Regions from separate parts of the Homo sapiens genome. Here region 2 is linked to region 1. The links come from fine-mapping of genetic effects on gene expression. A gene starts in region 1. The other region holds a variant in brackets. All regions are shown on one strand. Distances are from middle to middle. Region 1 holds the start of PERP (p53 apoptosis effector related to PMP22). Region 2 has its middle 62 kb from the start of SIMALR.

Region 1 (8,340 bases):
GACAAGTGTTTCTTGGAATTTTATCATGTTCCAGGCACTGGGTACTGTGCACACAGTGGTGAGAGGTAACATGTGACACTTTTGTCAACATCTAATTTACATTGCAGTGGGAGTGGATACAAATTATTCAGAATAAATATATAATTAAAATTGTGAGAAAAGTTTTGAAGGAAAGACATACAGGGCTTTGAGGATGTGTAACGGGAACTTAATCTAGTTGGGGGCTTTCTGTGGAAGTGAAGTTTTGCTGAGGTCAAGGGGTCAGTAGGTGTTCATCAGGTCAGAGGAGCAGGACTGGGTGGGTGAGGTCGAAGAATCCTGGGTTGACGTTTACTGTGTATTCACAGTCACTGTTAATTTACATAAGATACTCTTGGTTTTCTGGATCATGGCTATTGGTTCTAACTCAGGCTATGCTATTATTAAGGACTCTCAATGGTCCACACCTATCACGTGATCTCATCAATGTTCAATGTGAAAAATAAGGCCCTGCATCTTTGCCAAATGGTTGACAGTGGGAGCATTTGCCACATCCAGAGGAAACTCAATCACTCCATATCTACTGGAGGGTACTTCATCCATGGACTCAACTGGACAGCCACAAGAGAACCATGTCAAAGGCCCAATGGTCCTACAGAGATGCCCAGAACGGTGGCAGGGAGATCATGTCACTGCAGCTTGGGAGATAACTAGGAGTAGTTTGGGTGTTTACAAGGACCAAAGAAGGGAAGAAAGGAGACATTTGGATACATCCATAAACTCTTACGAGTGCTTACTGTGATGAATAGCACTATCTCTGCTGTCAGGCTGCCTAGGTTGAAGCCTGGCTTTGCCACTCCGTGACTGCATGGTCTTGGGCAAGTTACTTAACTTCGTTGTGCCTCAGTCCCTTGTGTAAATGAAGGAGATGCTGGTACATGCCTCATAAGGTAGATGTGAAACACCCACTGGGACATAGTAAACTCCAGCAGATGTTTGTTAGCTGCTATTATTATTATTACTATTACTTTCTACCAATTTTTATTTTTAAAATTATTTATTTATATATTTTTGTTGGTAACAGTCATTGGTTTTATAACCATAACCCCAAATTAGAAAAATAAAACCTTTTTGTTTATGGTGATAGTTTCATGGGTATGTACTTATCTTCAAATTCGTCAAGTTGTATATATTAAATATCACTTTTTTGTATGTCAGTCAAGCCTCAATTAAAAAAAAACTTTCTGTAGGTGCAATTTACATTTTTGCCAAGTGCTCAGTGCTCAGGCGCAATCCCTACATTGTCCAGCAGGGGGAACTATCCAACTGCCTACTGTTCTCTATGAGCCATCATTTTATGAATATGGCTAGGATGAATGATTGCATTGTCTCAAATAACTTAGTCACTTACAGTTGGTATTCACCTATAGAATTTGCCCTTTAGAAACATGGACATTCCCCTCTTTCAATGTTCAAAAGTGGAAAACCTATATGAAAAATCATCATCATCATCATCAACCCTTACTATATGCAGGAACTATCTTGAGCACTTTAGATGAATTTGCTCTTTTAACAATCATTAAAACACTGAGGTTAGCACTGTCTGTCTTACAGATGAGGAAATGGAGGCACAAAAAACTGAACTAACCTGCCCAGTGTCACACAGCGAATATGAGAAAGCGTGTAAACCTGAACCATCCGGTTCCAGAGTCTGTACCACATGTTGGGTATATTATTGTTGGAAACCCACCAGGGTCAATGTGGTCTCTTCCAGAAATTGTGAAGAGCTAATCTCTTTGTGTTCACCTCGGCATTAATGAGCTCTTTTCCTCAAGCCCATCGGAAATGGTTTCATTGAATAACGAAAATAAATTATATATATCAAGTCCAAAATTATCCAGAGATATTAAGATGCCTGCAAAACTCTCATTTTGTCTGAAGCCACTTTGCTTCTGGTCAGTATTTGACTTATAAGAATTTTTTTTTCTCACAAATATATTATACATAGCTAATTAAACAAATATCTTCATTACTTTTGAAAACCCTGAGAACATAAATATCACCATTTTCTTCACACAGCTTCCACGATACAAAATTAACTTTTGGCAGAACACCCTCTTGTGTTCTTTGAAAGTGAAAATATTTTCCTGTAATAAAAATATATGACGTGGTTTATGTAAAACTTGAATTATGTAAAATGAAGGCTAGGGAAATTATTTCATGTATTTTCAGATACTTTCTCCATGCTTTTATTCGTCCTCAAGAATTGCCAGAAAATGGCATAAGTCAAAAGAGTATTCTGTTTCTATTGAGAATATCAAATTGGAATACAATTTAAAATATTTTTAAGTAGTTCCCACTTTTATATTAAATTAACAGAAAAAATAGGGGATTCAGAAGAAATCTTTGGAGGTACAGGGTTAAGACATGACCCCCATACGATGTTTCAGTGATTTTCCCAAGGCCACCGAGGTGCCTGACACTGAGAACTCCTTTGTCCTCAGCGGCACACCTGGCTGCCACCCCACCCTTCCTGTCACATCTTAGGAGTCAGAACTGCGACGGGAGCTAGCCCAGGACACCGAAGGGGGGATCCTAAATGCAGGTTGCATGCTGACGTATGATTTTTATTTGGAAAAACCTCAAAATAGTAAATGAAGAGTAGAGAGAGTGCAGTTTAAATAGGTAGAGATTCGTGATAGGAAGTGGACTGCAGCAGAGGCGACATGAAATTATCTGGGGAAGCCAGATGAAGCCTTTCCGAAAGGAAGCGAGCATTTGTTAAATTACATGTTCATTCATCAAATTCACTGAGCTCCCCTTGAGATCCAAACACGGTGCCGGACACTAAGGATACACAGATAAATTCAGCATCGCCTCCGCTTTCCAAAATCTGGCAACCCAGCAGGAAAGAACAGCATGCAAAGAGATAAGAGTACCCGGGGAGCCACGGTCCAAGGTGCAAAGGCGGAGCCTAGGAGGAAGGGATCACCTGTGTCAGCAGGGGTCAGGGACGGGCTTCTGGGTTTGGGTGCACGCGTCCAAAGGAGTGCAGCCTTTATCCACAGGTGCAATTAGAACACCCATCTCACACTGCTGAAAACTCAGATATGGCACTGCTGACCACCGCCCCACGATGCGACATCAGGGGTCAGATATTAGGCTGGCGCTGTGCAGATAAACAAGTGTATATGTTGGTGCGCCAGGAAGACAAAACACGCGCCTGGAGAGGCCAGGAGAGCGGGACTGGAGGGTTGTGGGACGCGCGGGACCCTCGGGCCGCCTTCCGCCGCCGCCCGGTGTCACCAGAACCCAGCCTGTTTACCAGCGGCCCCGCCCGCCCCGGCCCGGCAGGGCAGGTCGGGGCGGGCGCGCTCTGAGTCACCGGAATCTAGGTGGGGCCGCCCGGAGCGGCGTCCTCGGGAGCCGCCTCCCCGCGGCCTCTTCGCTTTTGTGGCGGCGCCCGCGCTCGCAGGCCACTCTCTGCTGTCGCCCGTCCCGCGCGCTCCTCCGACCCGCTCCGCTCCGCTCCGCTCGGCCCCGCGCCGCCCGTCAACATGATCCGCTGCGGCCTGGCCTGCGAGCGCTGCCGCTGGATCCTGCCCCTGCTCCTACTCAGCGCCATCGCCTTCGACATCATCGCGCTGGCCGGCCGCGGCTGGTTGCAGTCTAGCGACCACGGCCAGACGTCCTCGCTGTGGTGGAAATGCTCCCAAGAGGGCGGCGGCAGCGGGTCCTACGAGGAGGGCTGTCAGAGCCTCATGGAGTACGGTGAGTGCCCGCCGCCGCCGCCGTCGCCGCCTCCAGGAAGCCCTCGGGGCCGCGGCCTGCAAAAGCCGCCGCGCGTGATGGGCCCTCACAGGGTCGGGGGAGCCAGTGCTTTTCAGAATGCCTGTTTAGGACGAGCTCGGGCTCATGCATCCGACCTGAACCAAATGCAGCAGCAGTAGCTTTGGGTGGCCAACACCAAGCTCAGAAACAGAAAAAAAAAAAAGGCCGTAGTTCAAACTGTATAGTTTTTTTCCTGGGTTTTGTCGGTTACGTACGAAAGATTATTTCAAGCATTGCAAGTTTAGATGAGTAAATATAATGAACAAAGTTTCTTGGAGACCTGAAATTTCTTCCCATTTCTCTTCCTTCTCGTTTCTTCTTATGATTAAAATATAAATATTGAAATAACGTGCCTTCCCTAATATCAGTGGATTCGTTCAACTTGATATAGCTGAAAAAACTTTCTCATTTAAAAAAGCCCTTTCAGGCAGTTTTAGCAGTTAACGTTTTCAATAGATATTTCAGTCTACTTTACCGGTCAGGCTAGTTCTTGTTAGCTCTTGTTCTAGGGCGTGTCCTTTGGTTTAAGCATGGCATTGTTGTTTAGAAAACTTAATTATTTTAATCCGATTTGAAATCTAAAAAGCAAACACATTCCCTACACTCGCGACGTGAAGCAGAGTTGACAAATTTAATGTACCTAGCAGGTGAAGTACTGTATGCCATTTTCCCAGCATGGAGGAAGCTCCCTGCTTGCCTTGCTGAAAGTCAGGACTGGAGCATAGTTCTTGTCTGAGAAGGCATTTTCTTTCACAGTGGGAAGCCCCCTCTCCTTTCCTGGGGGTGGATGGGAATCACAGCTGGGGTCTACTGTGATTAGCAATGTGTGTGGGGGTGGAGATGGGGTCTGTGAGAGCCTAATAAAACCTTAAAGCCAAATGGGCTTTACCTACCGGGTTTAATAGTTTTAAACACAGACAGCAAGCTACCCTGCCTGTTTTCATTTCTTACTATTACCATTGACTTGATTTTTTTCTTTGAAGTGGCCCAGGGCTTCCAACCCAATCCTGTTTATTTGTGTTTCCGGGGGACTATATCAGCAACTTGGTGCCCTTTCTTTTGTGTAATCCTTTGGACGTCACTTCCCCACAAAAGGAAGCATGGTCCCCATTAGCCAGGTAATAAAATGTAAACACTGCAGAAAATTCCAGCTTTCTTTGCAGTTTGTGTGTTTTCTTCTCTGAAAACCCATACACTGTGCCAGCTCAGGTTTGTATCATCTCCAGTGTTTTAGGTTTTTAAAGCGAATTAATTGTTTTTTGAAATAATGTACCTCTATCTTCTAGTTAAAATGCATCTGAACTCAGTCTCTTCTAGGGGACCTAACAGATCTGCGTGTGTGTTTTTAAACATACTTTGATAATTATACCCTACTCCAAAGACTAATGCAGACCCAAAGTATATGCAGTAATCCTCCACATATAAAGTAAGACTAGCGTGCCTTTGACTGGTGGCGGGGATATTGGCAGAACTATGATCAGTGCTACTGACGGGACATGATTTGACCTGCAGGGCTCTGGCTGTGACCACAGCCCTCTTGTGAAACATGCACAATGCCATTTTTATTTTTCTTGACTTGCAGGATGAGCTCACCTTTTTAGGGTGTGGTGTTCCACCTTAGACTGATACAGTGCTTTGTATATGGAAGGCAATAAGCAGGTTTTTTTTCTTAGTTTGGTTGAATTTTTAATTAGAAGTCTAAATGTTAATTTTTTTCATTGTAAAGAAAACACTAACCAGTGTATAGTTTATAATTCAGTTTGACATAGAAATTGGTCCTTGGAAAAGCTCGATTTTCTAAGTGGATCTCGAAAAATCTGTTTATGATGCAGCATGACTGATTTTCGTAAATGGTAATAGCTTTAACAACTCAGTTTAGTTATTCCTGCTACCTTTGCAAAGTTAATTAAGTGCCAGTAATGCATTACACACGGCTCTTGCTCAAGATCTGGAATCAAATCATGAATCTGGGATCCGCTGTCATGAAGTGGCTGTGGGAAGAAGACAGCAGATATGGAGCTACCTCTGGCCGTTGTAGCCAAAGATGAGTTTAAGTGCTTATTATACGTCTGTCTCATCGCCTGCATGCACATTGTCTAGTTTTGCCTCACAATTGTAGAAGCTGTGTATAACGACACTGTAAGGCGATTATCTAGGCATCTATGAACTCTGGATTTTCAGATAGCCTTAGTAAGGCCTTACTGAAAACCATATATTTACATGAGCTTGTACTTTATCTAAAATGAAGTAAGCAGTTTACACACACTCCCACGTATGCACAAACACACAGTATCTTGTGCAACAAGGAATAAGGTTGATGGCTCTGATTAAAATGAGATCTCCGTATAGAGAATTGAGTGTGTACATCCACTTTGAAAAACTTCTTGATATGTACTAGGCAATAAATATTTTGATTTACCGTTGTAACTATTAAGAAAATCTTGTTATTACAAAGTGTTTCAACACCTCTCTTATTAGTTGATAATCATAACAATATGTTCATTTTGGTAGTAAAGACACAGGTTATTCCTGGCAAGTATTGACAATAATCCGAATGAATATGGATGTTTTTATAAAGATAAATAATTCCTTAGAACTATATAAAAAGCAGAATATTATATTTTTCACTGTTACTGACAGTTTAAGAATTTCAGATGACCAAATCACCTCATTTTTCCTTGTGAAGGAGCCAAATTATTCGCTGAATATTTTCTTTGACCAGCTAAATTAACACCCAGCTAAAAACATTCTTATTTGAATTTTTTAAAAATCATGGTTTATATTTGTCAAAACAGGAAAAGAAAATCTATAGATTAATGATTGAAATCATTCAAATTTCACCTATAAATAAAATGTGAAATTTAAATGCATGTTCACTCATACTAGTTTTGCACCGCTGGCACCATCTTTTCTAGTTTTTAAGAAAGAATACATCAGGAGGATATTTTCAGCCGCAGCTGTGTAGATTTCAAATCACAGGCAAGCTCCAGCTTGTTCAAGGGGAGAATAATGGTGATAAGTTTGTGCACCAGAGTGAAACAGGGAGTCAGTGAGGATTGACGAGCATTTGCCTTGAATCCAAACTGGGAAGTACAAAGCCTCCGGTTTTTTGTTGTTTTTTAACCAAAGACACCCTTTGCATACTGTAAATGCATCAATATTTTGTTTGTTTTTAACATGAAATCGCTGTTGGCCAAGTCAAAGAATCAGTATTACATGAAATAGTTTTAGGTCAGTTAGCCCTGTGGCTCTCCAATGTACAAGAAATAAGAAAAGTAAGTACAAGTTAATAGTTCACATTAGTCTAAATTCCTCTTAAAGCAGGGATCCCCAACCCTGAGGCCACAGACTGTTACTCCCACTGATTCTACATTATGGTGAGTTGTGTAATTATTTCATTATATATTATACAGTGTAATAATACTAGAAATAAAGTGTGTAATAAAGGTAATGCACTTGAATCATCCCAAAACCAAGGAAAATTTTCTTCCTTGAAACTGGTCCCTGGTGCCAAAAATGTTGGGGACCACTGATTGAAAGGACTTCATTTTGAGATTATGCCCTTGTGGTTTTTTCAGTGGGGAGTGGGGTAGGGAAAGGTATTAAACTGTTCCTGGCCGGGTGTGGTGGCTCACGCCTATAATCCTAGCACTTAGGGAGGCCGAGGCGGGCAGATCACTTGAGGTCAGGAGTTTGAAACCAGCCTGGCCAACATGGTAAAACCCCGTCTCTACTAAAAATACAAAAAAATTAGCCCGGCATGGTGACAGGCACCTGTAATCTCAGCTACTCAGGAGGCTGAGGTAGGAGAATTGCTTGAACCCGGGAGGCGGAGGTTGCAGTGAGCCAAGATTGGGCCACTACACTCCAGCCTGGGTGACAGAGCGAGACTCAGTCTCCAAAAAAATACAAAACTGTACCTAATTTATGAAATTAGGCATTAGCAGACAGATTACTCTTTTTTTTTTGAGACGGAGTCTCGGTCTGTCGCGCAGGCTGGAGTGCAGTGGCACAATCTCTGCTCACTGCAAGCTCCGCCTCCCGGGTTCACACCATTCTCCTGCCTGAGCCTCCCGAGTAGCTCGGACTACAGGCGCCCGCCACCACGCCCGGCTAATTTTTTGTATTTTTAGTAGAGACGGGGTTTCACCATGTTAACCAGGATGGTCTGGATCTCCTGACCTCGTGATCCGCCCACCTCGGCCTCCCAAAGTGCTGAGATTACAGGCGTGAGCCACCGCGCCTGGCCGCAGACAGATTACTCTTTGCACGAGCATGTATGCATTCAAGTTCTTACACAGCAAAAAATAAAAAGTTGGCCACTCTATTGATTTAATAATTTTTAAAAGTACGTATGATTTATAACATCTAGAACGTTTAAGACCCAGTAATCTAGTCCAGGCCATTCATTCCACATGTGCCTCACTCAGCAGTAGCCACCCCAGAGAGCCTCGGTTCCTTTCTCAGTGTCCCCTAACTCGTGTTTGTCCTGTAAAGGGACGCAGACTACTGGGATGTTATAATTAGAAG
Region 2 (8,340 bases), 99 kb after region 1:
AAGCATAATCTTAAATTTCTCCTCCTGCTCCCTCCTTATATTCTCTTCACCCACCCCCCATATTCAATTGTACCCATTCTATCCTTCTAAATGTCACTCATATTTTTCTCTCTATCACCATCATAAGGGCTAATACTGAATAATCATTAAGGGCAGGTATTGTACCATATATCATCTTGTTCCTAGTGCATAGAATATTGGCACAATTTCACTATATTTTATAGAATATATGAAAGAATGAATAAGGGAATATACAAGTAAATAGATGGACCAATCAATTCAAGTTCAGTCTTTCTGACTTTAAGAAACAGAGACGTTTGTAACCTAGGTTAACGGAAGTACAAAGGGAGGTAGGGTATCTTAGTTTAAGGAAACACATAGCATACAGGGAGATGAACCAAAACGCAAAATAAGAAACAGTAGACCAGCCAGTATTCTGTCAAGGCAGCGGTCTCTAAGAACCTCAACTCCTGGAGTTTCTGAAACTTCACTCTAATTCTCCTCCATTTATAGGAGTCTGCTATTTTCTGGGGGGGGTCTGCTCTGTTTGCCTCTCAGTACATCTCATTTACCCCTTTACTCAGCATATGTTTTTCCTGCATACATCACTGAATCTGCCTACTCATAGTTTCTGCCTTCTCATTGCTGCTTGGCCATGACTTGCTGTGATCACAACATGACCTCCTACCTTCATCTAAACATCACTCCAACTTTAGCTCCTACTGTCTGGTTCTCTCTGTACTTCCCAATTCAAGTCCCCAAGGGCAAGAAATGGATGGACCTGGCTCAGTTTGAAAATGCCACTCCACTGAATAACTGCTCTTGAGCAATTGTCCAACCCAGTCCACCGTGTTTGGTAATGAAGAGTCCCATGACCCAAACCATGGCTGGAACAGTAGTCGTGGCAGGGATTGTGACAGACGTGGAACACAAACACTCATCATGTTGCTCCCAGGGTTATCAAAAATATATGAATTCTTACCCCCAAGGAGGGTGGAAAGGGGCTCACCCAAGGTAGTGGGAAATGCTGGGCTAAAGAAGGCAGCAGAGTCAAAACCCACCGAGGAATGTTAAGGCTACGAATGCCAGGGTGGGACTCCAGAGAATCAACACATGCTTTATGGGGGAATAGCACCATAGCTATGTTTTTTTGTTTTTGTTTTTGTTTTTTTTTTTTTTTTTGAGATGGAGTCTTGCTCCGTTGCCCAGGCTTGGGTGCAGTGGTATGATCTCCGCTCATTCTAATTTTCACCTCCTGGGTTCAAGCAATTCTCCTGCCTCAGCCTCCTGAGTAGCTGGGCTTATAGGCACTCACTACCATGCTGGCTAATTTTTGTATTTTTAGTAGAGACAGAGTTTCACCGGGTTGGCCAGGCTGGTCTCGAACTCCTGACCTCAAGTGATCTGTCTGCCTCGGCCTCCCAAAGTGCTGGGATTACAGGCATGAGCCACCATGCCAGGCCCATAGCAATGCTTTTGGTGGGAAGGAAGAGCAAGATTTGAGAATGTCCTAAGAATATTACTTTCCAACTCTAGGTTACACAGCACAAAGGCCCAGAAGCAAAACAGACAGTTTTTGGGAGCTGATTTCTTTGCTTCTAGGCTAGCCCCCACTGTGGCTGCCATTTTTAGATTTTAAGTAACATTTTCCCTGATGATAAAAATGGTTACTTAAAAATCTGGAAAATAATTAATTAAAAAATAAAAATTAATGGTATTTTCCCTACCTAGCAAGAACCACAGTCACAATTTCATAAAATTTTGTAGTCTTTTTCTCTATGCATTTTTTTTTCCTAAAAGGTTGAGGTTTTATATTGTAATTTTTTTCTTTTTCTTTTCTTTTTTTTTTTTGAGACAGAGTCTCACTCTGTCACCCAGGCTGGAGTGCTGTGGTGCGATCTCGGCTCACTGCAAACTCCACCTCCTGGGTTCACGCCATTCTCCTGCCTTAGCCTCCTGAGTAGCTGGGACTACAGGCGCCCGCCACCACGCCCAGCTGACTTTTTTTTTGTATATTTAGTAGAGACGGGGTTTCACCGTGTTAGCCAAGATGGTCTCGATCTCCTGACCTCGTGATCCACCTGCCTTGGCCTCCCAAAGTGCTGGGATTACAGGCGTGAGCCACCATGCCGGGCTGACTTTTTTCTTTAGTTATTATGCCACTAGTAAAATAATATATTCTCTAAAAATATGGTTGTAAAAATATTCCATTATAGGGTGGTCCCATAATTTATTTCACCATGTCCTATGGGTAAGGTTTAGATTGTTACTGGTTTTTCACTTTTATAAACTAAGTAGTTCAATAGAAAATTCTTAGAAGTGGCCAGGTGCAGTGGCTCATGCCTGTAATCCCACTACTTTGGGAGGCTGAGGCAGGAGGATCGCTTGAGCTCGGGAGGTTGAGGCTGCAATGAGCTGTGATCATGTCACTGCACTTCAGCCCGGCAACAGAGATCCTTCCTGTCTCAAAAAAAAAAAAAAAAAAAAAAAGCAAAAGAAAATTCTTAGAAGCAATAGACCACATTAGAGGGTAATATTTTTTTAAAACACATATTTGGTCATATAGTTTCTCAATCTAAAATTTTTCAAAATTTAACCTTTGCCTTTAGGATCAAGTTTCAATTCCTGTAGTTAGCAAAAATAGGATGCTTCACGGTCTATAGACGTTGGCTCATATTACTCTTCTGCTTAGAACCCTTTTCTCCCCATGTTTCTCCATTACTAACTTGTCTCATCTTCTAAGATTCAGCTTGTTCATTTTCCCCGTGAGGAAGCATTCTATCCCCACCTTCCAGTTTGGATTCCATACCTGTACCAGTTTGCATTCCATACCTGTACCAGTTTGCCAGTTTTGATTGCATTCAGCTGCAAGTCAGATAAATGCTGACCTACGCACCTGCAGACAAACAGAGGCCGCTTCTGGTATCGCTTCAACGACTAAAAGATGCTAGTGCTAGTGTATCAGTGATTCTTTTGGCTTTTACCTCATGGTTATACGATGGCTGCATCAGCTCCAGGCAGTTGCCTTGAGCTCCAGGGACAGAGGTTTTACCACCCTTGCATATGCTTTCATTTTTTTCTTTGTTAAACATTAAAAGCAAAAACTTCTTTGGAGGCTCCCAGCTGATTTTAGCTTCCCTCTCTCCTTGAGTAAAACTGTCTTCTTGCCAGGCCTGGCTTTAAGGGGAGCTGGGGAACACAGCACTTGATTTTCTAGTTGTTATCTTGGAGACGACAAAGGGTTTGAGAAAGTGCTGGGTTAGCTGATAAACAGTGTCTGCAACAATGCATGCTCTCTGGGCTCCTCCCCCATGCTCCCTTGATACTGCTAACTCTTTCTCTCTTTCCAGACTATAAGCCCCTTGAAGTTACAAAGAGTATTTTTCAGTCCTGTTTCCTGAGCGCCTAGCATGTGCCTCAAACGCATTATTTAAGACATATTTTTTAATAAATGAACTACCTTTAGAGAGCATCCACACTGCACCCTCAATGAGCAACTTAGCATGTCAGGGGAAGAAGAGAAGCACCTTCCCCTAAGCACATTTTCCAAAAGTGGCAACAGCATTATAAAGGGAATATACTGACCTGGGAGTTGTGGAGTTGACGATGGAAGGGCGCCAGCAGCAGCAGCCTGGAAGAAAGCTACACAGAGAGGTCAGTGGTTCTCAAAGTTGGCTGCACAGTGGAATCACCTGGGGGAGGTTTTAAATATCCCCATGCTCAGGCCTCACTCCTTAAGCCCAGTCTTTTCA[G/A]TGATGTGCAGGAGCTGGCTCATTCTGGTTGCAATTCTCTTTCCGACTCTGTATTCAGTGACATCCTTCTGGTAGCTTAAAATTGGCCACGGTGTGACCGGGCGCGGTGTGACCGGGCGCGGTGTGGTGGCTCACGCCTGTAATCCCAGCACTCTGGGGGGCTGAGGTGGGCAGATCACGAGGTCAGGAGTTCGAGACCAGCCTGGCCAACATGGTGAAACCCTGTCTCTACTAAAAATAAAAAATCAGCCTGGTGTGGTGGCGGGTGCCTGTAATCCCAGCTATTCTGGAGGCTGAGGCAGGAGAATTTCTTGAAACCAGAAGGCAGAGTTTGCAGTGAGCAGAGATTGCACCATTGCACTCCAGCCTGGTGACAGAGCGAGACTCCAGCTCAAAAAAAAAAAAAAAAAATTGGCGACAATGTGATATTTGTATTATAGCAATTGACAAATAAGACAAATCACAAATCAGCCCCCACTCCTACTTCGTCGCCTGAGAGCCAGGTCAACGGCACACTGCTCTTGGTATTCTTAGACACTCCCCAGATGTTTCCAATGGACAGCCAACTTTGAGAGCTCCAGGTCAAGGTCAGCTCCTCTTTTGGCCTGTAGTGTCCCGCCAAATAGTATCTTGGGTTCTTCCTTTTCCCCAGTCCTGCCTTTGGGTTAGCATCATTGCATGGGGTAACTGAGCTTGCCTCTAGGGAGCCCGAGTGCAACGTAGAAGAGAGAGTAGAACTGTGGCTTCATTTGTAGCTGTTATTGAGTTTCTTTGAATACAACTTGATTTTCTTTTAGAGCTAGCCAAATCTCTTTCAGTATACCTTTAGGGTTGGATCTATGGGAGGCATGCTATTTCACTGAAGGAGGTGGGAGAAACTTTCAATAATGTTGTGCAATTAGGAACCCTAATTACCCACTCTTGAGATTGCAGTTTCTCATTCGGAGGCATAATTTTCTATGGTGTAATTTGCTAGGTCTGACTCCCCTGCCTGGATCTGATTTGAGTAAAGTGGGCACCGCCCCATCCTAGGGTAGTCTCACTATGGCTAACACACATCAAACTGACTTTCCTGCATCACAAAATCACACTATACAATGCCCAGCTTCATTCCTCTCTCATAGGCCAGATTAGTCATCTTTTGCCTGGTGAAGCAGACTGAAGCATTAGCTCAAAGTAAGCTACCGCCACCACCACGTGCTGTGCAAATCTGGCTGGACAAACTTTGACTCAGCAAATTTGCAATGCCCCATGGGACACCTAAAAATCCCAGGGACAGAGAGGACCCTTGAAAAGCCAGAAACTGCTCTTTTTAAAAGTGGTGCTGGGCCCTAGAGAACATTCAAAGTTAGAGGGCAACTTTGGTCTCTGCCACGAGGGGGCAGAAGGAAGCTGGAAGGAGGTGGGAGTACAATTGGGATTTATTTTAGGGAGAGGACAAGGGCAACTGAATGGTCGCAGTTAGGTGTATGCACCGTGGGGCTCCTTGGGAAAGATGGGCTGCCAAGGGCAGCTGATTTCAAATGCTTTAAAACCTGATTTCTATAATAGCTTTGTTGCTCAAACACCATCCTGAATAACTTAACAGGAAATTGTTCTCAAAATGCTTTTCTTATCTGAACACTTTTTTGTGATTAGGAAGAATAGAAAATTATAAAGTTAAGAATTAAGGTGTACTGTGCAGGAAAAAAATTAAAGTAGAAACTTCTAAAGAATGTCTTAGTATCAATAAATGAAATAGATGTAGACATTGACTAGATTATAGAAGTGAGGGAAGTTTATAATACTAGCCAGTGCCTTATAAACAGTATCACACCCCTCTCATCAGCTCCCAGGCAGAGGGTGGAGAACTCACCTCGTAATTCAGGTCTGCTGCAAGATTGGCCCTCAGGGAAAGGGTCCCTTCTCTTCTGTCTTACCTACCATCAAAGGATCAGGAGTTTATGATTGTATTTCTTTATGGTTTCTTGACTATTGTTTTTATTTCTTTTTTTCTAGCTTTTCTGTTCTTCATAATAAAATGAAAATACCACTCAGGTTATTAACTCTTGGTGTTTTTTTTTTTTTTGGCAAATCTTTTTATAGTGTTACTGTCTGCTGAATTTCTTTAAGAGGGTATCTTACGTTGGTTAAATATCGTGAGCTAATTTTCTGTGCAGAGTCAGCTGAATAAAGTATTCATTTCTTTTGCTCCAACCTGGTGGCTAGAGTGGATTGCTGAAATAGACTCTTGGAGAAGGCAATACTACAAAAAAAGGAATATGATCATTTTCTTGCTTTTGTTGGGGTTTGCTTGACAGTATCCCTGGCAGGAAGTGATGTGCCTGAATCTTCTCATGCCTCTGCCTACTGTAGGAAAGCCTTGTTTCTGAGAACACTTCCCCCTCCCCCACCACTCTGTCATAGACAATCATGAAAGACTTAAATTACGTTTGTGAAGTTTCTTTTCATATGGGTGTTTCACCGTCAATATCCTTTTTACCAATCCCTAGGCCCCTCCCTACTCTATCAGTGGCAGGTGTTAAAATCTGTTTACTCTTTCTGAAAACTTTCGAGTGAGCCACACCTGTGTCTTTCAATGGCGCTCACAACGATGAAGTCAACCTAAACAAAACTGTGAATCTGGGAAATTTTGATTTTAACATTTTCAAACTCTGTTTTCTTTTTTCTTTAATGATTTACCTTTCAAACAACTTTCTATTTTCCTAATTATTCCCCTTGTCAAAAATAAAATGTTGTGACAAAATCATTTGCACTCTGGTTTTAAACTTACCCATATCATTGGGTGAGGGAGAACATGATGGTTAAAAGCTCTTTTATATCGGGAGGAAGATGGTCGCATGAGAAGAGAAAATCTAAAGATGTGATTTCTGTAAAAGCAATATTAATTATGACAATTATGCGGCCGGCTCAGCAGTTATACCTAATTACTGTGTCCTATACATTATTGATGATACATTGTTAATGACAGCTAATTTTGCTGTACAGTTGATTTCATTAGAATCGTGTACTGCATATGCATGCTCAACCTTCAGAGTTTATTGCTCAAACCAGCACATTCACAATTTTAAAAACCATAAGAGGGAGACCACTTTCCAGTGTTACATTCTAAGAGGGCACAGATTTCCTGCCCTTGCTACTCAAAATGCGGTGCAGGACCGACAGCAGCAGCAGTCTCACCCGTGAGCTTGTTAGAAATGTAGAAGACAGGCCCCACCCCAGACTCACCGCATCAAAATCAATGATGTGATTCACAACAAAATTTGAGAAGCCCTCTGTCAATAACTGACCTTAAATAATTTCCTAAGGGAGTTGCCAGAGGAAGGGAGAGTACACAGAAGTCAGTCACTGCTGTAGGACTCACACAACAGAAGTGAGCCTGCGGCTTATTTCAAACAGGACTTCTCAGCTTGGTGCCTACAGCGTCCCATTCTGTAGGTGTAAGGTGGGCTCAGTAATCAGCTTCTTTAACAGGTTCCCTCAATGGCTGGGATGCCTGCAAGTTTGAGATCCACGGTCTGTGCCTACTTCTTGACAAAGAAGAAAGAAGGATGGGATGGCACTGCAGCTGGAGGGTGGAAAGGACGTTCAAAGCAACACATGAGGCTACAGGGTGCAGAAAATGTGGTTAGTTCCTGTGCACTCTGGGAATGTCCACATTTACAATTGAATTCAAATGATCAATTAAAAAAATTACTCAGGTCAAGAATGTATGTTTAGATTTTTAAAGTAATCTGGCCTTCAGTGACCCTGAGTCTTCAATGAAAACCATGTATTACAGAGAAACACCCACAACGTGCACCCCTCACTCCTATGCAAGAAGCTATGCTGTAATTCACCACCTAAATCACCTCTGCCACTGGGTGTCAGTCTTTAGCTAACATTTTCTGGACTATATTCTTATATTGTTTGTAATATCCTTGCTTAGGGAGGACCAAGATAATTTGTGGAAGATGTGTCTTTGGGAAAATCCTGCGAAGCTGTCTTCATTTTGAGCAGGACTTAGTAACACCAGGATTTTTTTTTTCCTTCAAAGTCAAGGCTATGTATCTGGTACTTATGTATATAATGTGATAACTATTTTTATGTATAAATGAAAACTATAATTAATATCAAAATATCAATTTAAACAGGAAGAAAGTTTGGTTGGAGAATGTATTTTACAGATTCTTTTATATGATTCTATCTAATTGGAGTACATTATTAAGTAATTTGCTGAAAAAAGTCAAAAAGTATCGTTGCTAAATTTAAAGGCAAAATGGCTCAAAAAATCTCTTCCTTTCTCTCATTTTTGATGCATTGCTCTCCAGGGGCAATCAATGCCTTCCCAGTGGCCCCATTCAATGGAATTTTATGTAGAAAGGATTTCATTCTTACATTCCCACCCCAAATTTCAGAACAAATTCACTCATTCATTTTTGAACCCTTGTGACGATGAGGCACGGTTGGTCACCTGTGTTTCTTAAAGTTCTGAAGGATAAATACTTAATATTTGAAGGTATCTGGGTCCGTATTTGCTGAATACAGCATAAATCTGAAGTTATAGAAAGAACAGCTCAACTACTGGTGAGCCCAGAATCTGATTCAT

The links.
Region 2: its variant is fine-mapped to the expression of PERP in subcutaneous fat (TwinsUK, PIP 0.90).

Annotation. Positions count from the first base shown.
Region 1 is chr6:138,102,537-138,110,876 of GRCh38, reverse strand. It overlaps PERP (p53 apoptosis effector related to PMP22), which reads left to right and starts at 3,458. Exons shown (of 3, transcript NM_022121.5): 1 at 3,458-3,750. The coding sequence starts at 3,537. RefSeq lists a silencer at 3,280-3,329.
Region 2 is chr6:138,003,906-138,012,245 of GRCh38, reverse strand. No RefSeq gene overlaps it. Among named protein-coding and RNA genes, the nearest start is that of SIMALR, 62 kb to the right of the region's middle. The variant G/A (reference allele first, on the strand shown) is at 3,753.